7 linked regions of the Homo sapiens genome follow. Changing the gene in region 1 together with any one later gene gives a genetic interaction. Each region holds a gene or a part of one and is shown in the gene's direction. Other genes may lie near its edges.

Region 1 (3,500 bases):
ACGGGTGCTTCCTTCCACCCAGGAGCCTGAGCAGAGGGTGGAGGGTCCTGGCAGCTACCTACGGCAGCTGAGAGCTGCGCTCTTTAGCCGAGCGGGATCAGGGCTACGTGGACACAGCCCGTGCCAGTGTGGGTGGGGCACGAGCTGTGGGTTCCGATGGCCCAGTAGGCGTTCACCTGGCAGAGAGTGTGCGCGTGTCTCCCCTCCTTGGGGCGCCTCAGGTCAGGACCCTGAGAACCTCACTTATCCTTTGAGCTGCGCCAAGGCTGTTGTACAAAAGACAGTTCAGAAAATAAGGACAGGCTGTTCCTCCCAGCCAAGGGTGTGGCCCTAAGGACCCCTAGGTGGGGCATCGCTTCCCGCCAGGCACGTGCCACTCAGTCTTGGGCTGCTTTAGTGGCAGCCTCCTGGTTTGGAAGCGGAACTGAGGGTCAGGGATGACCACATGGCTCAGGGCTCAGCTGGGGTCCTGAGAGTGGGCCCTCAGGTTTACCTTCCTCCTGGAGGGGAACTGGGGGCCATTGCCCAGTGCACCCCCACTTCCCCTTAGGTGCGTGGGCCACCCCTCCCTCCTGCAGCCCCCGTTCATCTACCCAGGATAGGTGCATGGGCCACCCCTCCCTCCTGCAGCCCCCGTTCATCTACCTGGGGAAGGTGCGTGGGCCACCCCTCCCTCCTGCAGCCCCCGTTCATCTACCCGGGGTAGGTGCGTGGGCCACCCCTCCCTCCTGCAGCCCCCGTTCATCTACCCAGTGGGGATGTCCCCTGGCTCCTCTCCTGGCATCTTCCCGGGATGTAGGGGTGCTCCCATGCCCCCCGGCTCCTCTCCTGGTGTCTTCCCCAGATGTAGGGGTGCCCTCATGTCAGGGCTTATGCTTCTAGAAGGAGTGGAAATGCAGCACAGTCATTGCTGTTGCCTGCCAAGGGCCACCCTGGCTGGGGACAGATGGGGCTGCCTCCCCTCTCCCACCCTGTCCTGGCCACCTGCCCCCGCCAACCCTGCCACTGGCTCAGAGGAAGCAGGCCTAACCTGATGTGTAACCCCCACCCCTGCCGTGACTGTAACCCCGTGCCATGTGAAGGTGGGGCTCCTTGGCAGTGCCTGGTGATTGCGGTACAGCCAGAACCGGCCCCATTATCTGGGCTGTGGGTGCCATTGGTCAGGACCGTGATGGACTCATACGTAAAACTTGATGCATTTTAACTCCCTTCATCCTAGAGGATTGAGACCTCTGGCGGGTAAGTGTTCATATTACCGTCCTGCCCTAGAGCCAGGGAAGGACCCTAGGGGAGAAGTGACGTGCCAGGGTCACTGCTGGGAGGAGAGCAGGAATTTGAACGCTGGCCATGCCTCCTTTTTGGGGAAAGGTCAGTAAATGGGCAGGGGAGGGTGCTGGTCATTTGGGTGATGGTGCCAGTGGGGTGAGCAGCTCCAGGTCATCAGGTGGTATGGAATCTGGCCCCGGGCAGCCCGTCCAGCATTCCTCTCTCACCGAGCCCACAGCCCTGGAGCACCTACTGTGTGCCTGCTCTGGCCCACTGGGAACAGGACAGTCCCGAGCCCTGCCCCGAGGAGCTGGCGCCAAGTGGAGCAGCTGCACCACAGGCACACGGGGGACAAAGGGCACCGCTGATGATTTGGCCAGGAAGAGATGAGGTGGGGATGGGGGCTACAGGGTGGGGAGACGGTGGCCTCGGGAAGGGCTAGCTTGGCCACGCCAGCTTGGTCATGTCACCTTCTGAGTCTCAGTGTTCCCTTCTCACGTGGGACAAGACCACGCATAACCCGAGGGGCTGCATGTGTGGAGCCGACAAGCTGACGTGCGGGTCCTGAGTGCACTGAGCCCGCTGGGGTTCCAGACACAGTGGATGAACGATCCAGGGAAGGAAACAGCCTGGGCTGTGCTCTCTGGGACCTGCCCTTGAGCCAGGTACTCCTGTGGGAGGGTAGCCGGGCTGGCTGGGGGCCTGGAGCCCACAGCCTCTCCTCCCTTGCTGTTTTCCCGGCCAGGGAGGAAGCCAGGCTGGAAGACCCCAGAGGGCTAGGGGGATGAACACAGGTTGATCTGTGTTGAATTTGGCTCTAGCCACCTCCTCAGGGCCAGAGCGGCTCCTGGAGCCGGAGTGAGAGCTGTGTTACACGCAGGGAAGCCGGGGCTCGGGGAAGGTGGCTGCCAGGGTGTGCAGGGCTGTGCCAACCTCATCCTGGTGGGTCCCTGTGACAACAGGACAGGCTGCCTGCCCATTGTACAATGAGAGGCTGATGCTCTGTCACTTCATGAGGTCACACAGGCTCCAGGCAGTGGGGGGCTCTCTGAAGGAGGTCCCAGTGACCTGAATGGAGCCCCCGGGTGGGCTGAAACTTCTGCCTGTAAGGCCTGTCCTGGGTTGGGGTTGGGTGGGAGAGGGCAGGAGTCCTGCTGGGAAGGGCCTCTGCCATGCCCAGCTCCTACCACAAGTACAGAACAATGACAACTCCGCCACCTGGCTGCCCCACGCTGGGCACATGCTCCCCGCTGGCCTCAGTTGGGAGTCCAGTGAGTCAGGAGGTGAAGGTGGGGTGCACGTCCCCTGCAGACCCTCACAAGGCAGGTGGCGGGGCGGGTATTGGTCATGAGAACCCTGCCTTGGGGCCTGAGTGCCTCGGTGGCTGTGGAGCCTGGTTTCGACCTCTTTGGGACCAGTGTTCTTGTCCATAAAAGGCAGTGATCTTTCTGGATAGTTCAGAGAGATTCTGTTATCTTTGCCCATCAGAGCTGGAAGGGAGTTGAACAAAATGTTTTGCAGAAATTGGACCTGAGTTGGGCATTGCTCCTCCTGCTGCCCCTGGTTCTGAGGGCTTGGCACCACTAGCCCGCTCTCTGTCCAGGGTCGGCCCGGCTCCTGCCTTTATCATGTGTGAGCCTCGCTGTGTGTGGCTCAGTCCTGGACGGGCCGAGACCTGGATGCAGGACCCTGGACAGTCAGCGCAGGCGGAGCAGGGAGGGAGGCGTCTGCCTGAGGCCTGCTTGGAGGTGCCCAGGCTGGAGCCCTTGGCCCTGGAAGATGTGGTCAGGGCCCAGTGGTGTTGGGATGGCCAAGAAGAGGGCCCCTGTGCCTTCTGCCCAGGGCTTGGCCTAGCCAGTGCTCAGGGTTTATTTGCTGGATGAGGGGTGGAGTGGGCCAGTGGGGCCCAGGTCTCCTGCTAGGTGACCCTCAGAGGTGGGCATAACATCCCTTGGAGTCTCTGCTCTGCACTTGCCAATAAGAGGCTGGACCATTTGAGTGGTTATAAGTTGGGAAGCACTCCCTGATTGCTTGGTTCTGCTTGAGGCACAGCCTCCAACTCCCAGAGATTCCAGCACCCCTGCAGGAGCCAGCGTTGCTGATGTGGGCAGACGGGCGTCTGGGAACACCCCAGACTCAGCATACTAGGGTTCAAGTCCCTGACTCCCATCCTGGGGCATGGAGTGGCAGGAACCAGGGAATGTTCTAGAGTGAGGTGGTGAGGTGGAGCAGGG
Region 2 (4,109 bases), on another chromosome or scaffold:
CACCAGCCTTCTGAATAAATATCTTGTCCTAAATTTTGTTCTAAATCATTGGAACCAAAGCAACGTCACAACTCAAGTCCAATTTCTCGGCCTACCATTTTCTACAGATGGCATTTATTCAGCAAGGGAATGTTGTAGGTATAGTAATTTATCTTTTTTCCATGAAACATGTGTTATCTTCTTGCTCTATTTTGAAGAGATATTATGATAAATGATGCCACTATTTAAAACTTGTAAAGCTTCTTGAGGTTCTCAGAAAAAAGTACAAGGTATAGGTCAAAAAGAGTAATTTTGTCTCTCACAAAAGAATTTTCTGTTCAAAAAATGCTGTTAACTTGAAAAAGTCATATCTCCAAAAGAACGTTCTAATAGGTGGGATAATCATCATCATATTTCCAGCTATAATCCATCATATTTCCAGGTGTATCCCTTCCCTTAAAAGTAAAAAAGGAGAAAATCACTTTGCTGTGTGGAAGTGCTTTGTGTGTTTTATAAAATCCACATAAAATGTTCGTGGTTCAAGGAGTGGCTGCCGCATTTCTAAGGCAAATAAGCTTATCCCTGAAGAAGCTTGAAGATCTGACTCTCAAGAATCTTTGTGTTCTGGATGAAAAAGGAATCATTATTTTTTAACTCCCCTGCTCAAGTCAGTGACTTCCACTGGCACCCAATCCATTGGTTATAAGTACCCATGAATTGCCTTGCCAATTATAGGCAGGATAACCTAGGAGGACCAACCAAAACCAAACTCCTGGTAAGCTTTATTAGCCTTTTCTACAATGTGTCTCAGTTTCTCTTTCACACCTTGGAGTGGAAGACAATCTCTACTCACACTGTTGTGGTATGTGTCTGTCTGTCTCAGATGTGTGTATAAGGTGTATTTCTCAGCTCGGTATCTGAAGTAATTTCTTTTTCTTTTCTTTTTTTTAAAGACTGCTGTCTTAAGGCTTAAAAGTAATTTAAGGTTTTGTTTTTTGTTATTTTAAGAGTTGCAGTTTCTTTGGAGACAACAAAGTACTTTTTTTCCAAAGATGAAAAAGGCATATTCAGACTTTCTATGTTATGTTCCATAATTGTTTTGCTTATCACTGTATAACATTCTCATTATCATGGGCTACTTTAAGCTAATCAGTTGCATTTTGGGGTCCTCATTTAGAAGTCAATCTGGAAAAAAGATGGCTGTAAAACTTAGATAAACCAGTATGCTATTTCTCCTTCCTTGTCTGCCTTTACAGATGTTTCCTCTTTCTCTCTCTCTTCCCTGACTATCTCTCTCAATGATCATTGACAGCTCCCGCATCCCCTCTTTCACTCAGCTTCACTCCACCATGACCAGAGCACCTCTCCTGCTACTATGTGTTGCCCTGGTGCTGCTTGGGCATGTGAATGGAGCCACAGTAAGAAATGAGGACAAATGGAAGCCACTCAACAACCCCAGAAACAGAGATCTGGTAAGAACACACTTGGGGCCTGGGTTTCAGGATAGAACTAATGCCTCTTTGGATTTACGCACACAGCATTCTGTTTTCCAGAACGTAGTGGAAAGGGGGCTACCAAGGGTTGAGAAAATTCTCCAACAGGATTGGACCAGAGTTTTACTACCCTAGTGGTTGGCAACCTATTGTTTCTCTGGCCAGTTTACATTTGTTTCTGTAAAGAGAAACAAATTTATATTTAGAAACAATCTTATACACACATAGTACAATTCATTTGTAACTGATCTTATATACACATTGACTTTGTAGCCTTGATTTCTAATACATATAAAAAATAAAGAGTGTAACAGGGAATTGCTCGTGCATAGCTTAGATTGAACTGATGATAAAACAAGTTATCATATAACTAGAGATTGCCAAGCTCAGCTGCAAAAATTGAAAGTTGACCCTGCATGGGTATCAATTTACTGGACATATTTTCAACATATAGTTATCTATAAAATAGAATTCAAAAGATCAGTAAACATTCTCTTTAAAAAAAATGCCAAATACAATAAACATGTTGACATGACTATTTTGAAATATGGTTTTTCTAAAGTGAATGATGGGAAATATAACAACATAGGATTAAAATAAACTGAGATAAGAGACCAGCAGGATTTGTTTTCTGGTCACAGCTGCTGACGAAAACAGGATCTGGTCCAGACAGGATAAAGTGAAAACACTGGGTGAAACCAGCAGATGGCAACAAAAGTGGTCCCGACCTGCTCTCATTGCTCTTAGGATATGATCCTCCCCTCAGTGCCATGACAGTTTACAAATGTCATGGCAATTACCTGGAAGCTACCACTCCTTTCCATGGCAATGACCCAAAAGTTACCACCTCTTTCCTAGAAAGCTCTAAATAACTCCCTTCTGTTTGCATTAACCCATCCCTTAATTTGCATATATTCAAAAGTGGATAAAAACACAGTTGATAAGAGCCCATATGTTGTCAGCCCTAGGTGCACTACCTATGAATTAGCCTTGTTCTGGCAGGAGCAGTACCTTTCAATAAAAGATTGTTACCACAACCAGCCTGCCCTTAAATTCTTTTCTGGGCAAAGCCAAGAACCCTCCTGTGCTAAGCTCCAGTTTTGGGATTTGCCTGTCCTGCATCAAAGCAAGTAGCACTTCGCACATCTTCTGTGTTCATTTCCTAATGGAAATCTGAAAAGAAACTATTGCAGAAGGCAACAACAGAGATCTCATATTAAGGAAGAGGAGATACTGAGCTGCTTATTATGGAGTTCATTTTCACCTTTGACCTTAGTACTCAGAGATAGTTCACAATGAATCTTTCCACTGTGGTGCCGCTCCATAGTCTTCCTTCAATTTTCAGTAAGAATGGTGAATTATTTTGGTTAGGGTTGAAATGTCAGAAAGAAGGTACAGAGGAGGGGAGGAGAAGTAGCTGAAGCATGTACTTGTATTTCTAGATTTTGTATTTCCTGCCTCTTAGATTAGCCTTAAAGTCAATTCAGGGGAAAAATAGAGGGAAGAAAAACACCTTTATTTTTGGTGTTTCATTTATATCTGGCATTGACCATTTTCTTTCTCTCTTTAGTTTTTCAGAAGGCTTCAGGCATATTTTAAGGGCAGAGGTCTTGATCTTGGAACATTTCCAAATCCTTTCCCCACGAATGAAAATCCTAGACCTCTCTCTTTCCAGTCAGAACTTACTGCTTCTGCATCTGCAGATTATGAAGAGCAGAAAAACTCCTTTCACAATTATCTCAAAGGCTGAAAGTTTCTTCTGAGCTCAGGTAAAAGTTGGCCCTTTATTCTGGATCTGTCCAAACATACAAGTCAGCCATAAAGTAGATATTTTGAAAGTATTTATTTGAAAACATAATTTTATTTCCTCATAGAAATAAATGCTCAGTTCTGCTTATACTCATTACTATTAAGTATTTGGATTTGGTTCAGGTATTTTACAGTCTTGTTTTAAAAAGAAATGACAGTTTTTATTTTTTAAGCATAGTTATCCAGGCAGAGACATATTAAAATAATAGAATTATCTCTTAATAGGATTATTAAATTAATAACATGGCCACACTCTTACCTGTATCTTTTTCCAGACCAACTGATATAGCTAAGTTATGTGGAAAATCTACATAAAGAAATATGTCAAATTGAGCTGTTGGATTAGATGGGAATTAAAAGTTGAAAGTATGGTTCTTTGGGGGATAAAGTATTATGCATATATTTGAGCTTGAACTTCCTCACCTATAGGAAGAAAAGGTTGACTATTAGTAAGGATGGCATTTTTCTCATAGAAAAAAATTAAAAATTTATTAAGATTTGAATTTCATTACTTTTTTTGTTGTTGTTGAGGTAGAGTCTCACTGTGTCGCCCAGGCTGGAGTGCAATGGTGTGATCTTGGCTCACTGCACCCTCCACCTCCTGGGTTCAAAGGATTCTTCTGCCTCAGCCTCCTGAGTAGCTGGGATTACAGGTGCCTGCCACCACACTCAGATAATTTTTGTATTTTTTTTTTTTAGTAGAGACAGGGTTTCACCATATTGGCCAGGCTGGTCTCGAACTCCTGACCTCGTGATCCACCTGCCTCAGCCTCCCAAAGTGCTGGGATTACAGGCATGAGCCACCACACCCAGCGAATTTCATTACTC
Region 3 (3,500 bases), on another chromosome or scaffold:
TCAGAAGTATAATTGACAGCCTTTTAACTTGGGATTGGCATCTGAAGTGGGAGGCAGTTTAGTGGGACCTCCTGTGGAATCTCCAACCTGTGGAATCTCCAGGTAGATAGTATCAGAAGCAAGTTGTAGGATACCCAGCTGGTGTCCACTGGGGAATTGCTTGGTGTTTGTGGAAAATATCCCCCACACATCTGGTGTCAGAAGTGTTCTGTACAGTATTGAGTGACTATGTAAGAGGGTAGGAAAAACACTTTGTTTTTTCCTAGCTCATTGGCATCAGATTGTGGGGAGATAAATTTAATGTTTTTTTGTTTTTGTTTTTGTTTTTTTTTGTCCAGGCTAGAGTGCAGTGGCATGGTCGTGCTCACTGCAGCCTCAACCTTGTGGCTCAAGCAATCCTCCCACCCACCTCAGCCTCCGGAGTAGCTGCCACCATAGGCACATGCCACCACGCCCAGCTATTTTTTAAAAAAATTTTAGTAGAGACTGATTCTCACTATGTTCTGTTGCCTAGGCTGGTCTTGAACTCCTGGGCTCAAGTAGTCCTCCTGCTTTGGCTCCCCAAAGTGCTGGGATTATAGGCTTGACCCAATTTGCCTGGCAATTTAGTGTTTTAGAAGTATTAAATCTATAAGCCAGGATTTGATCAGTGATGAATTATGTGTGGATAGAAAGAGAGAGAGATTTGTTGACTGAGCCCTAGAGTAGATGCTGGGATCTTCTGAACTTCCTATGAATTGACTCTCATTTCCTCGATGTTGTGAGCCTCATCTGTCCTCTTGTACACATTGGAGGAATTGTACCTTTCTGAACAGAATTTGTGGTATGTTTTAGGACTCAGTAGTCTTTGAGGATGTGGCTGTGGACTTTACCCAGGAGGAATGGGCTTTGCTGGATCTTGCTCAGAGAAACCTCTACAGAGATGTGATGCTGGAAAACTTCCAGAACCTGGCCTCACTAGGTAAGAATGGCAAGATTCTTTCATGTAGTTGTTTAGAAAGTTATTTTATCTCACTAAATTGACTTTATTCTAGGATTTGGGCTGAGGAATGGGAAGACATTGGTAAGTAAGACAGATATGGTCACTGACCCCAAGGAACTTACAGTCTAGTGGCTTTGCTATGAAAATAAACACCTGGGCCGGGCGCAGTGCTCATGCCTGTAATCCCAGCATTTTGGGAGGCTAAGGCGGGTGGATCACCTGAGGTCAGGAGTTCGATACCAGCCTGACCAACATGGAGAAACCCCGTCTCTACTAAAAACACAAAATTAGCCAGGCGTGGTGGTGCATGCTTGTAATCCCAGCTACTTGGGAGGCTGAGGCAGGAGAATGGCTTGAACCCAGGAGGTGGAGGTTACGGTGAGCCAAGATCGCTCCATTGCACTCCAGCCTGGGCAACAAGAGTGAAACTCCATCTCAAAAAAAAAAAAAAGAAAAAAGAAAATAAACATCTGTATATTGAACTGATGCTTTTTTTCGTGGTTGAAAGCCTTGAGGTTTATTAAGTATCGAAAGTGTGGGTATAAACCTCAGCAATCACTATAGGACACAGGGAGGAGGTTTGTAGTTTGAACATTTTGAGGATTTTACTGCTATCTGTGTCCTTTACCCAAAGACTACCAGAACACACTTATAGTTAAACAAGTTGGGTTTATTTTGCAGTGCAGCAAGCAAGAATACATGCCTCTTACATGTCCTAGTAAGATGGTGTTAGAAAAGACCTATTACAGGATTTGTGCTTCAGTTGAGTGATTTGGGGATGGGTCTATGGAAGCAGGCTGTATTAGTTTCCTAGACCTTCTGTAGCAGAGTATCACACACTGGTGGCTAAAAACAACGGAAATTTTTTCCTTCACAGCATTTCTGGAGGCTGGGTATCTGAAATCAAGGGATCAGCAGGGCCATGTTCTCTCTGAAGGCTCTGGGGGAAAGACTCCCTTTTCTCTTCCTGGCTTCTGGTGATTGCTGGCAATCATTGGCATTCCTTGACTTACAGATGCATCATTCCATTCTCTGCCTTCTCCTTCTTGCCTGTGTGTCTAAGTCTCTGTCTCCTTATAAGGACACCAGTCATTGGATTTAGGGCCCATCCTAATCCAGTATAACCTTGTCTTGATTATATCTGTAAAGACCCTATTTCTAAATAAGGTAACATTTTGAGGTTCTGGGTGGACTTCTCTCTCTCTCTCTCTCTCTCTCTTTTTTTTTTGTAGGCTTTATTATTATTTTTAGAGCAATTTTAGGTTCACAGCTGAATTGAGTGGAAGGTACAGAGATTTCCCGTATAACCTCTGGCTCCCACATGCATAGCCTCCTCTAATAACAACATCCCCCACCAGAGTGGTAAATTTGTTATAACTGATGAAGCTACATTGACACGTCATCATTGCCCAGAGTCCATCATTTACATTAGGGTTCACTCTTGGTATTGTACATTCTATGAGTTTGGAAGAATATATAATGACATGTATCCACCATTATAATATCATACAGAATAGTTTCACTGCTGTAAAAATCCTGTGTGCTCTATCAATTCATCCCTCCTTCCCTCCCTCTTAAATCTTGGCAACTACTGATCTTTCTGTCTCCATAATGATGTTGCCTTCTGCAAAATGTCATATAGTTGGAATCATGCAGTATGTAGCCTTTTCAGATTGGCTTCTTTCACTTAGCAATATACATTTAAGATTCCTCCATGTCTTTTCATAGCTTGAGAGCTCATTTCTTTGTACCTCTGACTAATATTCTATTGTCTGGATGTACCACGGTTTATCCATTCACCTACTGAAGGACTTCTTGGTTGCTTACACGTTTTGGCAGTTACAAATAAAGCTACTATGAACATTGGTGTGCAGGTTTTTATGTGGACTTAAGTTTTCAACTCCTTTGGGTAAAAGGAGTGCAATTCAGTTGCTGGATTTTATGGTAAGAGGATGTTTAATTTTATAAGAAACTGCCAGCCGGGCGCGGTGGCTCATGCCTGTAATCCTAGTACTTTGGGAGGCCGAGGCGGGTGGATCACGAGGTCAGGAGATCGAGACCATCCTGGCTAACAGGGTGAAACTCCATCTGTACTAAAAATACAAAAAATTAGCCGGGTGTGTTGGCGGGCACCTGTAGTCCCAGCTACTCGGGAGGCTGAGGCAGGAGAATGGTGTGAACCTGGGAGGCAGAGCTTGCAGTGAGCTGAGATCACACCACTGCACTCCAGCCTGGGCGACAGAGCGAGCATTCCAGCCAGCAATGAATGAGAGTTCCTGTTGCTCCTCATCCTCACCAGCATTTGTTGTTGTGAATGTTCAGGATTTTGGCCATTCTAACAGGTGTGTAGTGGTGCCTTGTTTTAATTTGCATTTCCCTGATGACTTATGATGTTGAGCATCTTTTCATATGCTTATTTGCCATCTGTATATGTTCTTTGGTGAGGTGTCTGTAAAGGTCTTTGGCTCATTTTTTTGTCTTTTTTTTTTTTAAACATTGTTGAGTTTTAAGAGTTCTT
Region 4 (3,386 bases), about 130 Mb from region 1:
ATCAATCCAAACGTCACATCATACCCTACAAATATACAGAAAATTATTTTTCAATGAATAAATAAATAAATTTGAAAAAAATTAAATGAGGAATTCAAATATAGAGACTCTCCAAGGGCCCACTGAGCCCCAAAGGATTTGGATCAAATATGGTGATATTATGGAAATATGTAGTAATATCTTAAAAATGTGTAAGATATAGTCTCTTTTTTTTTTTTTAAGAGAAAGGGGTCTCACTATGTTTTTAGGCTGGTATCGAACTCCTGGTCTCCAGTGATCCTCCCACCTCAGCCTCTCAAATAGCTAGAAATATAGGCATGTACCACCATGCTGGCTTAAGATGCATTCTTTGACACAGCAATTCTATTTCTATAAGTTTATCCATATAGGTAAGAGAACATATATACAAGATAATCACTGTAACTTTACTTATTACTGCAAAAGTTTAAAAATAACCAAATTGTAATAATTTTATAATATTTTATCAGTACAAAAAATAAGTGATGGCATATACAAACCCTGGGATAGTATAAGGCTATTAAAATTATAATAGCATTCCATGTATTTTGATATACAAAGTGCCAATGTTACAGGTGAAAAAAGCGAAGTGCAGAATACTATGTGTAACTGTTAATAGTGATGGTTTGCTGGGTCAGAACTGAAGGCCTGGGGGTAGAAATGAGAGCTCATGACTTCTACCTTTTGAATGTTGTTCCTTGTGCATGATTTACAATTTTCTAAAACTAAAAAAAAAATCTCAGAAAGGGGCTGTACGCACCTAAATTACTTTGATATTCCCCAAAGTGGAGAGAAGTACCCGCTACACATTTTATGTGATGCATTCAGATCACACCAACTCCTTGAACTAAATCCGAATTTTTATTTTAATCTGATAAACTTGGCCTACTATTTTACTGAACTCATTTCCCCTATAGCCTGATAAGGTCATTGACCTCTCCATACTGGCACCAGCGGGAGACTACTCACCTCGAGATCTCAAAAGCCTCCTACATGAGGTTAGTAATATCCCTGAATCCTGCAATGAATTAACTCTCTACTCCACTGAGTCCCAGGTCTGCCCCCAGAGAGTCATCCAGAGAGTACCAGGGACCATCTTCAGAAAACAAGAGGCATTTGATCCCCAAACTTCTTGAATGAAAGCGCTGTTGTTTTTCTTTTTTGAATATATAAAAGTAAATACTCAAGCAGATGGGAAACAGAACAGGATAGTAATACCCTTATCATCATTAACACCTTGGATCAAGAAGAGGCATTAAGCATACAGACTCACGCTTTGATGAAAGCTGGGAGAAAGAGGAGCATCAAAGGGATCTTGAGAACAAAGGCAGTCCTTCCCCTCCCAATCACATGCCCACCTCCTCTCACTGCAGCTTCTGTCTCAGGTCTTCTCCCAGCAGAGCTATAAATCCAGGCTGACTCCTCACTCCCCACATATCCACTCCTGCTCTCCCTCCTGCAGGTGACCCCAGCCATGAGGACCATCGCCATCCTTGCTGCCATTCTCCTGGTGGCCCTGCAGGCCCAGGCTGAGTCACTCCAGGAAAGAGCTGATGAGGCTACAACCCAGAAGCAGTCTGGGGAAGACAACCAGGACCTTGCTATCTCCTTTGCAGGAAATGGACTCTCTGCTCTTAGAACCTCAGGTAGGAGACATCAATCTTGCACATCTGCAAAATCTAGAAAAAAAGGATTGGAGAAAGGATCTGGAGTCAAGTGTGGAAAGGTCTACCTCACTTGAGTGACTTTACTTAATCTTCCTGGACCTTGATTTTCTCATCTATAAATTAATCAGTGAGAACCAAATAAATCTAAAAGATTTTCTTTTTTCTAAGACTTTCAGTTCCAAGATATTTCTGTGAAATTTGCTACTTTTAAGATAGAAAGAGCTACACTGACTAGTTCTTTGTAGATCTAAATGGGCAGACTTAGTTATATAGAGAGTGTTTTACTTTGTCCATTGGAAAAGCTTTTAGAACCTAGAGAGGAACCTATAGGTGTGTTTTGATGTAGGCTAATAGGCTTGATTAAATCTTTCTACAATACATCCTTAGATCAAAACATCATATTGTGTCTCATACATATACACAATTATTGTTTGTCAATTAAAACAAGTAAATATGTAAAATGTTAAAAAAAAAAAAAAAAAAAAAAAAAGGAGAGACAGAGAATGAAGAATTTGAATTTGGAAAGTCTTCAAAGACTCCTTGAGCACCAAAGTATTTGGTCCATGACATTAGCATGCACAATGCGGCATTTCAGAAACTGATTCAGGTGCTTTAGGGAGCCTTGTTAGGACCTGGAAATCACACATGGAGGTCAAGATTAGGCGTGTGGATGAAGCAGAATGAAGAGTAGGTAACCCTGAGGTTGAGAGGTATATTGTTGGACCAGGGAGCAGGTAATAAATACATCCTGGATAGACTCACATGGGGAAAAAAACTATGATCTTGCATGACTAACACATAGCTAGTAAGATTTCTTGTCACTTACGACAAAGACATGAATTTTCTCCATCCTAACATGACTGATACAGTGTCTCTTATTTAGACTATCTCAGTTAGTCTGGCTGTGCTTGTCCTTTTTCCCACCTCCCTCGCTGTGCCTGACCCTCTCTTCTTTCCACAGGTTCTCAGGCAAGAGCCACCTGCTATTGCCGAACCGGCCGTTGTGCTACCCGTGAGTCCCTCTCCGGGGTGTGTGAAATCAGTGGCCGCCTCTACAGACTCTGCTGTCGCTGAGCTTCCTAGATAGAAACCAAAGCAGTGCAAGATTCAGTTCAAGGTCCTGAAAAAAGAAAAACATTTTACTCTGTGTACCTTGTGTCTTTCTAAATTTCTCTCTCCAAAATAAAGTTCAAGCATTAAACTTAGTGTGTTTGACCTTTTTAATTTTCTTTTCTTTTTCCTTTTTTTTCTTTTGCTTTGTTATATGGTGGTTTGTATGGTTCCTTTGTATTGAGAATTCTGATCTACATTAAGTTAACTGGTCTTTGCATTCCAATGATGCACAATTTGAGCATCATAGAGCAATAACAAAATAACAAAAATGAATATAATTGGGTTTTTTATTGTTGTTGTTTGAGACAGTGTCTAACTTAGCCACCCAAGCTGGAGTACAGCGGTGCAATCTCGGCTCACTGCAGCCTTGACCTCCTGTGCTCAAATGATCCTCCCACCTCAGCCTCTTGAGTAGCTGGGACTACAGGCATGTGCCACCACACCCTACTAATGGTTTGTATTTTTTTGTAGAGACAGGGTTTCACCATATTGCCCAGGTTGGTCTCGAACCCCTGAGCTTAAGTGATCTGCTCTCCTCAGCCCCCCAAAGTGCTAGGATTACATGCTTGAGCCACCATTCCTGACAGG
Region 5 (3,936 bases), on another chromosome or scaffold:
AGTTATATAATATACACATATAATTTATGTATTATATATAAGTATGTATAACATCATATGTAATATATAAATATAGTACATTTCACACTGGTAGGACGTAATTCCAAACCACATATTTGTTTAACCAATTGAATTACTTGGATTTAGTTTCTATTTCCCTCTTTATTTCCTTCTGAAAATATTATACAAATAACATCAGTTTACAAAAAATAAAATCTGATATAGCTTTTTTATCATACACTAGGCTAGACTAAATGCATTCTGTGGATTGTTTACCTAGGACCAGATGGTATATTATAAAGTTGTATACAAATGAACAAGGACTGCCTGAAATGGATTGATAGCTGAGCACATTTGGCTGGAGCGTCTATTTTAGAAGGAAAACCTGAGAATCATATTATTTGAGTGTGATTCATGTGTTAATAGTATTTCAAGACAAGCCACTTAAAATATGTCCTGAGTGGTGATGCTGGAAATGATCTTTTCTTCAGTGTTTTCAAGTGTCTTCATTTAAGTGTACACATTTTGCCTACCTATAACACGTATCTACACATTGTGATTAAGAGAGCAAACTCTGAAATCAGACCTAGATTAAAGATCTTAATCTCTGCCAGTTGATTGGGCAAGTGACTTAATCATTCGACAGTAATTTCTGCATTTGAAAATGCCTATCTCAAGGGTAATGAGAATTACACTGGTTCACCAAAAGAATTACACTGACTAATATAAAACGTGCCAAGCATGTATGTGTCACATGAAGGCTCATTAAAAAGCGGATATTATTGTTAATCTTCCAATAACTACTATTTCCAACAACAGGCTGAAGGGGCTCAGAAACGTTTGTTGAGTAAAAACACAAGGAAACAGTAGCACAGATTTCCTGCTCTCCTTTACGATCGATGACCTGTCTAAGGACTGTGATCTCTGTTCACTACAGATTGTCACCTGCATTAATCTACTGTCACCCATTAACCTATCAAATAAGGCAGTCTAAAAACTCCAGGCGTCCCTTTCCGTAAGGACCCGGACTGTTGAACTGGAAAGCTAAAATTCAAGGCGTGACAATTGCCCTTTGTCCCACATTCCTCCACCGGTCGCCTGCTTATTTAAATGGTGCGTCCCCTCGGGTACCACTTGAACAAAACCTGCCCAGAGCGCTCCCTGTGTAGATTCGCTGGAAGCAGCTGGAGGCTCCAGTTCTCATCTGCTCAGGTGTCCCCGGCGCCTTGGCGAACTCGGCCACTCCAGTTCCTCACGTGGTGAGCACTCAGGGCAGCGGGTCGATTTTCCGAGGTCCCATACCTGGGTTTGAGGGGCGCGGCTCGCAGCGGCGGGTGCAGGGGCGACTGCCAGCCCTCACCCCGCCTCGGGGTGCGTTCGGAGGCCGACACCTGGAGGACGCCTCCAGTCCCCGCGGGACGCCACGCCTGCGCGCCAGGGATCCGGGATAAGAAGTGCGCGCCGGGCTCCGGCTGCGCGCCGCGGGGCCACCAGTTTGCGCGCAGGGCTCAGGCGACCGTGCGGCCATGGACACGCCACGGGGCATCGGCACCTTCGTGGTGTGGGACTACGTGGTGTTCGCGGGCATGCTGGTCATCTCGGCCGCCATCGGCATCTACTACGCCTTCGCTGGGGGCGGCCAGCAGACCTCCAAGGACTTCCTGATGGGCGGCCGCAGAATGACCGCAGTGCCCGTGGCGCTGTCCCTCACCGCTAGCTTCATGTCAGCCGTCACTGTCCTGGGCACCCCCTCCGAGGTCTACCGTTTTGGGGCCATTTTTAGCATCTTTGCCTTCACCTACTTCTTTGTGGTGGTCATCAGCGCGGAGGTCTTCCTCCCGGTGTTCTACAAACTGGGAATTACCAGCACCTACGAGGTAAGGGGCAGGGTGGGCTGGGACCATGCAGGGCGCGGGGGAAGGGGACTCTGCAGACCTCTGGAGGCGTTTTCTTGGGGGCAGACTGTCACTGCCACATCGAAATCTCTCCCCGTCCATCGTCATCATCACCCTCCCTTCACTCCTCCCCGTCCCCCGATCTTCACCTGGCATCTTTCCCTTCTACTGAGAGGCGTCCTCTAAGGGTGAAAAAATTCTTGGGATTTACTCTCCTGGGCTTAGTGAAAAAAAGAGGCTTCCAAAGTGAACGGATTGCAACAGTAGTGCTCGCTATGGTCCTTTCTACCTTTAGCATCTTTGATTCCCAGGCAAGGGGAAAGATTTTTGGGGAAGGTAAGTTCTTCAGGTCTCAGGCCCTGCTTCTTGAAAGGAATACTCTTGTTCCAGGTCCTCAGCCCCATTCACTCTTCCAAGATAGTTGGTAAAGAATTTGTACTCCCCTTCCTTCCCCTTCCACACCCACCCCCTTTCCACTGAAACAGGCACCCAAGTGGCTAAGGTGTACCAGTACCTGTATTTCGGACCAGATTCTACCACTTACTAGCTGGGTGACCTTGGGTGACTTACCCAACCTTTTGTGCCTATTCCTCAAAAATAAAATAATATCACCTACCTCATCCAGTTGGGAGGATTAAATGAGATGATGCAAGGTGTAGCATTTAGAATAGAGTTTGACACAGAGTAAGTGCCAGATAGGTATTGGCCATAATTACTGTGGTGGTGCTAGTTGTGATGGTGGTAGTTATCTTGGGATCAGTAGGAAAATTAGGCAGCAAGGTTCTCAAACAGCTCTGCCTTCTCTATGGAAAGACAATTAAGGAAAACTGTCTTTCCTCTATTGCACAGGTCCCCTGGCTATAGGTTTTCTCAAGTTGTCTGCAAGAAAGGGCTTTGAAAAGATGATGCACGTTTAGTTTAAAGAGCTGTTGAATGGGAGGTGGGGGCGGGATCAAAGCTCAGGGGAGTGGCGGGGCCCAGTTCAGTGCCTTCAGTGGTCTCCCTCACCCAGCACTGGTCCTTGAGCTACATGGGACAAGCCTGCAGAAGTTTCCTCTCTATTAGGCCATTACCCAGAGGACTCCAATCCTGAGATTCTGGCAGGTGGTTTCCTAGTGAGGCTGGTTCAACTGGTGCTGGGGACAGGGCCTTAACGGCACAACAAACATTGGTGACACACTCTGCCTGGGCTCTAGTGACATCTTCCAGGGCGAGGCACCCCTGGGCAGCATTGCCTTCCATTCACTCTGGGGCTGTGTTTGGGAGAGCTCAATAATTATCCCAGAAGTGAGCAGGATGCAGTTTCTCAGGTTTGCTCAGAAGTGACAAACTGGCGAAATTCCCCAGACCAAATTCACTTCTCAGTCATTTTTTTTTTTTACTTCTCCTTATAGTGAGAAGAAATAAAATATAATTTCAGACTATGACTTCTTTCGAGAACTCAAAAGGCTGGTAACACTGGGCCCATGCTCCCTGTGGCCACAGGAACTCAAGTTTATAGCTATTGCTCTCACTCTCTATTAAACTTCTATATTGAAGTCTTATCTTTGTGTTTTCATGGTTACTGTTTTTTTGGTAGAGAAATTTTTATCTGCATTTATGTCTTTATCAAAAAATGTGAAAGGCAAAATGGACAGGGGTAAAGGGATCTCTTGTTTCCAGGGAGATGTAAGAAAACATATATCTTAGTGGGTGGGAGGAATATTCCAACATGTTAATATGTGAACACCTGGCCACTGTCACTTATGTATGTTACCTGATGGAACCTGGAGGCATCTGAGTCTGTGAGCTGTGATCTATAGCTAACCAATTCCCAAACTTGGAAAGGGTTTGAAGAATCTGGCAGGAGGACTTCAGTCCCCACACATGAATGCTGCTCTCATAACCACTGACCCATGCCTCTTCGGGGCTACAACATTAACTCAAGCAGAAACAGATTTCCCTCATGCTTGCAGTGGTAGAGGCTAAGTTAGCAGGGGTTCCAGCTAAAAATGTCAAAAAGCAAAAGTTCATTGAATGCTGAACACATGCCAGGCACTGG
Region 6 (3,500 bases), on another chromosome or scaffold:
TGATGGAAAGGAAAGGTGAGGTGGCTCATAGGTGGACAGAGCTTAGGAGAGAAAGGCTCTACATTTGGGGACAGTGAAAAGAAATTCATTACTCCTACTGAGAAAGGTCACGTATGTTAATTGACTAGGCAGGGGAGACATTTGTTTTTAATCATATTCATTTGACTATTTGATTTTTTAAAATAAATTTTGAAATGCAATTTTTATTTCTTAAGAGTATGTTTAAGTATATCTTTAAATGCTGTACTATAACATAAACAAAAGCTTCCTATTCCATCCATCCTGGTTCCCTGTCCCCATTCCTGAAAGGCAACCACTTTGAACATTTTTGTCTCAATATTCTGGTATTCACCTCCTTTTTTCTAAATAACATTCTTACACTGCTAATGCTTCATTTCTCAGTTTTAGATATTTCCTGTTGATTTTTGATAATGAAGTTAAGGATTTAGCTCTCTTTCACTACCTAACCCCTTCCGTTTCATCTCCACCCCAACACACTCTTCTCCTTGCCCTTCTTTCTAATATGGTATTATTTTTTGGAGGTTGAAGGTTGACCAGATGTCAGCATCTGTAAGCATTTTCTTTTGGGCTAGTCAGTTTCCCCAGCAAGAAGTCCTAGATTTTGCTTGAGAAGTACAAGCCAGAACTCCTGCTTTTTGGGAGACGAAGGAAGTGAGCATGTTGGACACCTCATCTTGCAATATGAGAACTTTAATTCTTTTCTCTCTGCATTGCTTCAACCCCACCTTTATCTGCATCTGGTATGCCTGAAATTCAGAGCTTGTCTCATTCAGTTTATCTAGAGAAATAATCTTTAATTTTTTTCTGTTGCCAATGTGAGGGAAATGTGACTATGCCATGTTGGGTGAAAGAAAACATCAGGTGGTTTTAACATCTTTTTATGACATCTTACATTCGGTTTTATGTTTTTCAGCCCTACTCCCAAACTCTAGTCCACAGAAGTAATTAGTAGCTCCATTCCTGAACCTTTCTAGGGTCTTGTCATGGCTTCCCCACCCTCCTCCCACCTTCACTTAAGCTTCAGCTTTCTCTGGTTAAGTTAGATACCACTCATTTGTCTGCTCTTTAGCTTCCCACATTTTGTTGACAGCTCTTATCTGTGGAAATCTTCTATATTCTTTGTCCTTATGAGTTTTAGCCTCCTTTTTTCCTTTATTAACATTATGATTGGTTTGGGAGAGAGTGGAAATATTAATAAATGCAGGTATTCAGGCTTTTATTTTTAACCAAAAGGCCCTGAATTTTTTAGGGTAAAAAATAAATCAAGTTTTTTAAAAATGTCATTAGAAACATGACTGTATTGCATCCTATCTTATCAATGTTCCACATTACCTATAGCCAGTCTCTGATGAAGGTTTTTTTCTAAATTATTTTTTTTGAGGGGGAGACAGAGTCTCGCTCTGTCGCCCAGGCTGGAGTGCAGTGGTGTGATCTCGGCTCACTGCAACCTGCACTTTCCGGGTTCAAGCGATTCTCCTGCCTCAGCCTCCCAAGTAGCTGGGACTACAGGCGCACGCCACTACGCCCAGCGAATTTTTGTATTTTTAGTAGAGACAGGGTTTCGCCATATTGGCCAAGCTGGTCTCGAACTCCTGACCTCGTGATCCGCCCGCCTTGGCCTCCCAAAGTGCTGGGATTACAGGCGTGACGACCGCGCCTGGCCCTAAATTTTTTATGGTTAAAAAATAACATTTTAGGCCAGGCGCGGCGTCACGCCTGTAATCCCAGCACTTTGGGAGGCCGAGGCAAATGGATCCCTTGAGGTCAGGAGTTCGAAACCAGCCTGGCCAACATGGTGAAACCCCTTCTCTACTAAAAATACAAAAAAGTTAGCCAGGCATGGTGGTGGATGCCTATAATCCCAGCTACGTGGGAGGCTGAGGCAGGAGAATCGCTTGAACCTGGGAGGCAGAGGTTGCAGTAAGCAGAGATCAGGCCACTGCACTCCAGCCTGGACGGCAGAGTGAGACTCCATCTCAAAAAAAAAAAGAAAAAAAAATTTTAAAGATCATCCCAATCTTTAAATTTTTGGGGTAACTATTATTATGTACTTAAGATAAACTTCCTGTTAGAAATAAAACAGCAAGATTCTAGGGAGATAAAATATTGCCAATAGATTCATTGGGCACTGCATACTTAGCCCTCCATAAATCCCCATCAGACCCCATATGATTAAATTAGCCATCTGTGTCCATTTCAGTGTCTATAGCTAGATGGCAGTTAACATTTCTTATTGCTTCAAGGATCATTCATCTGTAGAGGGTCTTCTAGCCACCTGGTACTGAAGATTTCTATATTCCTTTGTCTGAAACTTTGAAGCAAATCTGTTTCATTTCTCTTCCCTCAGCTTGGTGTTCTCAAGAGTCTGCCCTTTCCGAGGAAGAAGAGGATACAACCAGGCCTCTTGTACGTCTTAAGCATTTATTTGTTTCCTGCATTATTTTGCAGTGCAGTTACGGTGGGTTCTTGTAACCTACCAATGTGTTGGAAAAAATAAATTGATGAAAATAAAAGTGAGAAAAAATACAGATAGAAAATCAGAACCTGGGGAAATTTGAGATATGGCTATGCAGAAGCAGGTACATACAGAATTATTAAAGTTGAGTTCAAATTTAAATATGATCTGGACAGTCAAAGCAAACTGGGACACTTAAGTTTATTCCGTAAGTCCATAAGTTGCACCATTTATGAGGAAAAACTTACAATTATTTAAGTAAAAGGCTTTTAACTGGCACCTTGTTCAAAAAGAAACTCTAAAATATAGTTGGACTTCTGTATCTGTAGATTCTGCATCCATAGATTGAACCAACTGCAAATCAAAAATACTTGAAAAAAAAATGGGTGGTTGTATCTGTACTGAACATGTACAGACTTTTTTCTTGTCGTTTTCTAAACAACATAGTGTAACAACTATTTACATAGAAATCACATTATATTAGGTTTTATAAGTAATCTAGGGACGATTTAAAGTATACGGGAGGACGTACATTGGTTACGTACAAATCCTACACCATTTTATATAAGGGACTTGAGCATCAGTGGATTTTGGTATCCGTGGGGGGTCCTGGAACCAATTCTACATGGTTTCCTAGGGACGACTGTAATTCCTTAATTCTTACAATTTTTAGCTTAGCTTTTAGAAGTTGGTCTTGGCCAAACTTCAAAAATTCAAATTACCTGGAAGAGTAAGTGGAACACATATCTTTCAAATGATCCTACGTATATATTTTCTTCAATTGAGTTTTTAATCCAAGTTGAGCTAAATTATACTAATATTCTATGGCAGAATCTTATAGTTCTGATATCCATAGCTTTTCACATCTTTTTTATGGTCTCAGAAGATATAGTCTTCATCCTCATCTTACAAAATTACGTATTCTCTGCTCTTGATTCTTTTTGTTTCCACCTCTGAAGTCACTCACACACCTATATTTTGAATGTTTTCTGCTTAACTGCCTCTTTTTCTTCAGCTTATGTCT
Region 7 (3,500 bases), on another chromosome or scaffold:
ACAAATTGTCCTCCCTGAGTACCCTGTGTTTCTTTTTTTCTGGGTACTTTGATCACTTTCTTTCTTTTTGGCATTCTGCAGTTTCACTATGACATGTTTAGGTGTCAGTTTTTGTTGATTCTGCTTGAGACTTGTTATATGTCCTTTGAATATTTGAGTTTTTCAATCATTCTGGAAGATTCTCAGCTATTAGCTTTTCAGATATTGCCTGACTCTCATTCTTTTTTCCTGTTCTTCTAGAACTGGCAGCCAGTGCTGGACTTCTGACTCTCTTCGTTGTGTCTTTCGGTTTCTGTTTACTGTTTCCCATCTCACACTGTCTGTGCTGAATTCTGGGGATGCCCTGAGGCCTTCCTGTTTGCTCATTTTCCAGTTCACCAGTTTTCTCTTTGGCCATGTCTAATTGGAATTTTGTTCACATTTCAGTGGCTGTTTTGTAAGTTCTATTTCATTCTATTTCAAATAGGAATTTGAAAATGGACATTTCCTTTTTCAAGTAGAAATGTCAGGCTGTTTCTGTGTCTTATTTGCTCATCTTTTTGACTGCTCCTTTTATACTGTGTATCAGGTTAGTCATACTTACCCCACCGTCTCTATCTGATGGTTTGGTTAGCTTCAGTTCTTGGGAGTATCATTCGCCTGTCTTCTGTCTGCTGGTCTTCACTCATGGTGGATCATTTCCTTGTGGGTTTTGCAACAGAACTTCTATGGGGATTGGTGTGGCCTCAATGGAGGGTGTAAGTCCAAATGTCCTTCTGTTTTGGCCAAGCACTCCAGGGTAAGCAGTTGGAGGCCATTAGTTAGTGCGGAGGGGATGGTTCCTGAATTGAGAGGTGGTTTCATTTGAATTCATTTGAACTCCAGGCACATTGTTACAAATTTTCAGAGGAGGCTTTTTGTTCATTGGGCATAGAGCCCAGGCTAAGCAAGGAAAGCTTCCTGGTCTTTGCCCTGCCTGCCTCTGGGGCTATCAAAGGATCACCTGGCTGTCTGCTTCTCTTTGCTCCCAGAAGTTTCCCTTGCTTTCCGTCAAGCTTGGCTCTGCTCGAAATAGTGTCGTAGTTTACCCAGTTTGGTGGGAAGAGGGTTTTCGATTTATAAACAGAAGTCTGATTCTCTCCCTGTTCCTGTTTCCACCTCGGGGCTTCCATGCCCTCAACTGTCTGTGTCATCCTCTGGGTGACTCACCAAGAGGAAGGATCTAATTCGGGGACTGCACATCAAGGGCAGCCTTGATGCTGGCGTAGGTGCCCAGCCCAGTCAGCGCACCTAGCCCCGGGCACCGAGACAGCCCGCGAGACAGCACCTGCAGCCGCTTCGCTCCATGGCTGCCATTGGTCACATCGGGCTGCTCCCTGCCCTGAAGGCTTAGGACTTTTCTGAGCCTCTGCTGTGCCAGGCTTTGTGGGCTCCTGGCCCTGCTCTGGTGGTCCTCAGAGCCAGCAGCCTTTGAAGGCTGTGAAGCATTCCCTTTCCCCTGGCTTGATAGGCTCTGTCCTGTGGCCGTCTGTTTTTTTTTGGAGGGGGAGCTTTTGAGATGGAGTCTCACTCTGTCTCCCAGGCTGGAGTGCAGTGGCACGATCTTGGCTCACTGCAACCTCCATCTCCCGGGTTCAAGTGATTCTCCTGCCTCAGCCTCCCAAGTAGCTGGGACTACAGGTACACGCCACCATGCCTGGCTAATTTTTGTGTTTTTAGTAGAGATGGGGTTTCGCCATGTTGGTCAGGCTGGTCTTGAACTCCTGACCTCAAGTGATCCACCTGCCTCGGCCTCCCAAAGTGCTGGGATTATAGGTGTGAGCCACTGTGCCTGGTCCTGTGGCCTTCTTATTTCCCCAAATGCCAGGCCTGCTCTGTCTTGGGGCCTGTGCCAGGAGCACTCTTTCCTCTGCTGCCCCATGGCGCAGCCCCCCTAGGCAAGGCCCGGCCTGCCCACCGCCACCTTTCCTGTCTCCTTCCCTGCCCCACTGCTCTCCCAAGCACTCGACACCCCGTCAGTGGCGCTTTTCTCTCTCCCTGCCATGGACTGCAAGCTCCATGGGGTCAGGGATTTTTGTCTGTTTTGTCCCTGCTGTGTCCCCTGCATCGGGTGGCTAGTGAGGGCTCCAGGTGCTTCAAGGAGGTGGAGCGCACTGGGTGGGAAGGCAGGCTCTTACCGGTTGGAAGATTTAGATAAGCTTTGCTGGGCTGGTGTGCAAGGCAGGTGGGCTCAGGAGATGGGCAGGGCCTGTGGCTCCCACTCCAGCCCTGAGGCCTTGCTCTGTCCAGCTCTGGGGCCCTGGCCTTATTCACCCAAGGCTCCAAGAGAACCTGCAGAAGGCAGCTGGTTCTACGCCAGGATGCCCTGGGCACAAAGACTTGCAGACCCTTCCCTTTGTCCACAGCGACTGTCCAGCTCTCAGAACACCTGGGGAGGAGGGCTGTGTCCTTGAGAGCACCGTGGGAAGGAAGGTCCAAGGCCTTCGACCTTTAGGATTCACATCCCCGCCCCGCCAGCCCAATCTAGTTCCCTGGTTTCCCGGGCCAGGCCCCTTTCCACCCTGCATGGCCCTGAGCGGATACTGCGTTCCGTGTCTTCCCCCAGCCCCCAGCCAATGATCCCTGAGGCTTCCCCCTCAGGATCACACCCACCCCTGGATACAGTCCTCGGGTCCTTCACAGGACATTCCCACCACTTCAGCCACACCCCAGCACCCTCAGAGGCGGCCTTCGCCCTTGCTCCCCACCTCTGCTCCTGTGGGGAATCTAAGGATCAAGAAACTGAGAGTCAAGGCCATTGATGAGGGTCAGGGGTGCTGCCACGGGGCCTAGAGTGTGACAGAAAAGCAAATTAAGACAGGAGCAGCTCCTGGGAGAAGCAGACACCAAACAATACGGCTGCTGGCCCAGAGGTCAAAAACCATGGCCTAGAGGGGGCGGTCAGGAAGTGGGACATTAGGCCGGGCGTGGTGGCCCATGCCTGCAATCCCAGCATCTTTGGAGGCCAAGGCAAGTGGATCACCTGAGTTCAGGAGTTTGAGACCAGCCTGGCCAACATGGTGAGACTTCGTCTCTACTAAAAATACAAAAAAAATTCGCTGGGCTTGGTGGCGGGTGCCTGTAATCCCAGCTACTCGGGAGGCTGAGGCACAAGAATCCCTTGAACCTGGGGAGGCAGAGGTTGCAGTGAGCCAAGATCACACCACTGCACTCCAGCCTGGGCAACAGAGCAAGACTCCATCTCAAAAAAAAGAAAAGAAAAAAAAAAGAAAGTTGGCGTTTCAAAGCCAAACAGCTCTGGGCGTTGGATGACAAAGTTCAGATGTGCCCCAGGAGGGGCGACATCAGTGGTGCAGGACAGAGGGCCGGTGGAAGGAGCTGGCTGTACGTAGAAACAAAACCAGATGCCTACTGGTGCATTTAAAAATCAACGTTATTGAGACGTAATTAACATACTATACAATTCTTCCTTTTCCATGTACAGTTTAAATTCATTCACAGAGTTGTGCAGCCATCATCAC

Evidence for each region.
Region 2: changes in PTP4A3 (region 1) and C2orf66 together harm fitness less than expected from each alone (positive genetic interaction), as found in Homo sapiens cells (one study listed by BioGRID).
Region 3: changes in PTP4A3 (region 1) and ZNF699 together harm fitness less than expected from each alone (positive genetic interaction), as found in Homo sapiens cells (one study listed by BioGRID).
Region 4: changes in PTP4A3 (region 1) and DEFA5 together harm fitness less than expected from each alone (positive genetic interaction), as found in Homo sapiens cells (one study listed by BioGRID).
Region 5: changes in PTP4A3 (region 1) and SLC5A8 together harm fitness less than expected from each alone (positive genetic interaction), as found in Homo sapiens cells (one study listed by BioGRID).
Region 6: changes in PTP4A3 (region 1) and ZNF568 together harm fitness less than expected from each alone (positive genetic interaction), as found in Homo sapiens cells (one study listed by BioGRID).
Region 7: changes in PTP4A3 (region 1) and ABCD1 together harm fitness less than expected from each alone (positive genetic interaction), as found in Homo sapiens cells (one study listed by BioGRID).

What each region holds. Positions count from the first base shown.
Region 1 is NC_000008.11:141,395,021-141,398,520, forward strand, and holds part of PTP4A3 (protein tyrosine phosphatase type IVA 3), read left to right. Parts: intron 1-3,500. UniProt on the Homo sapiens protein: Protein tyrosine phosphatase which stimulates progression from G1 into S phase during mitosis. Enhances cell proliferation, cell motility and invasive activity, and promotes cancer metastasis.
Region 2 is NC_000002.12:196,806,556-196,810,664, reverse strand, and holds the start of C2orf66 (uncharacterized protein C2orf66 precursor), read left to right. Parts: upstream 1-1,309; 5' UTR 1,310-1,316; coding exon of another isoform or gene 1,317-1,328; coding exon 1,329-1,451; intron 1,452-3,042; coding exon 3,043-3,222; 3' UTR 3,223-3,241; intron 3,242-4,109.
Region 3 is NC_000019.10:9,299,839-9,303,338, reverse strand, and holds part of ZNF699 (zinc finger protein 699), read left to right. Parts: intron 1-834; coding exon 835-961; intron 962-3,500. UniProt on the Homo sapiens protein: May be involved in transcriptional regulation.
Region 4 is NC_000008.11:7,054,804-7,058,189, reverse strand, and holds DEFA5 (defensin alpha 5 preproprotein), read left to right. Parts: upstream 1-1,450; 5' UTR 1,451-1,492; coding exon 1,493-1,664; intron 1,665-2,646; coding exon 2,647-2,759; 3' UTR 2,760-2,886; downstream 2,887-3,386. UniProt on the Homo sapiens protein: Host-defense peptide that maintains sterility in the urogenital system.
Region 5 is NC_000012.12:101,207,439-101,211,374, reverse strand, and holds the start of SLC5A8 (sodium-coupled monocarboxylate transporter 1), read left to right. Parts: upstream 1-1,136; 5' UTR 1,137-1,526; coding exon 1,527-1,877; intron 1,878-3,936. UniProt on the Homo sapiens protein: Acts as an electrogenic sodium (Na(+)) and chloride (Cl-)-dependent sodium-coupled solute transporter, including transport of monocarboxylates (short-chain fatty acids including L-lactate, D-lactate, pyruvate, acetate, propionate, valerate and butyrate), mocarboxylate drugs (nicotinate, benzoate, salicylate and 5-aminosalicylate) and ketone bodies (beta-D-hydroxybutyrate, acetoacetate and alpha-ketoisocaproate), with a Na(+):substrate stoichiometry of between 4:1 and 2:1.
Region 6 is NC_000019.10:36,922,832-36,926,331, forward strand, and holds part of ZNF568 (zinc finger protein 568), read left to right. Parts: coding exon 1-15; intron 16-2,368; coding exon 2,369-2,427; intron 2,428-3,500. UniProt on the Homo sapiens protein: Has transcriptional repression activity, partially through the recruitment of the corepressor TRIM28 but also has repression activity independently of this interaction.
Region 7 is NC_000023.11:153,731,356-153,734,855, forward strand, and holds part of ABCD1 (ATP-binding cassette sub-family D member 1), read left to right. Parts: intron 1-3,496; exon of another isoform or gene 3,497-3,500. UniProt on the Homo sapiens protein: ATP-dependent transporter of the ATP-binding cassette (ABC) family involved in the transport of very long chain fatty acid (VLCFA)-CoA from the cytosol to the peroxisome lumen.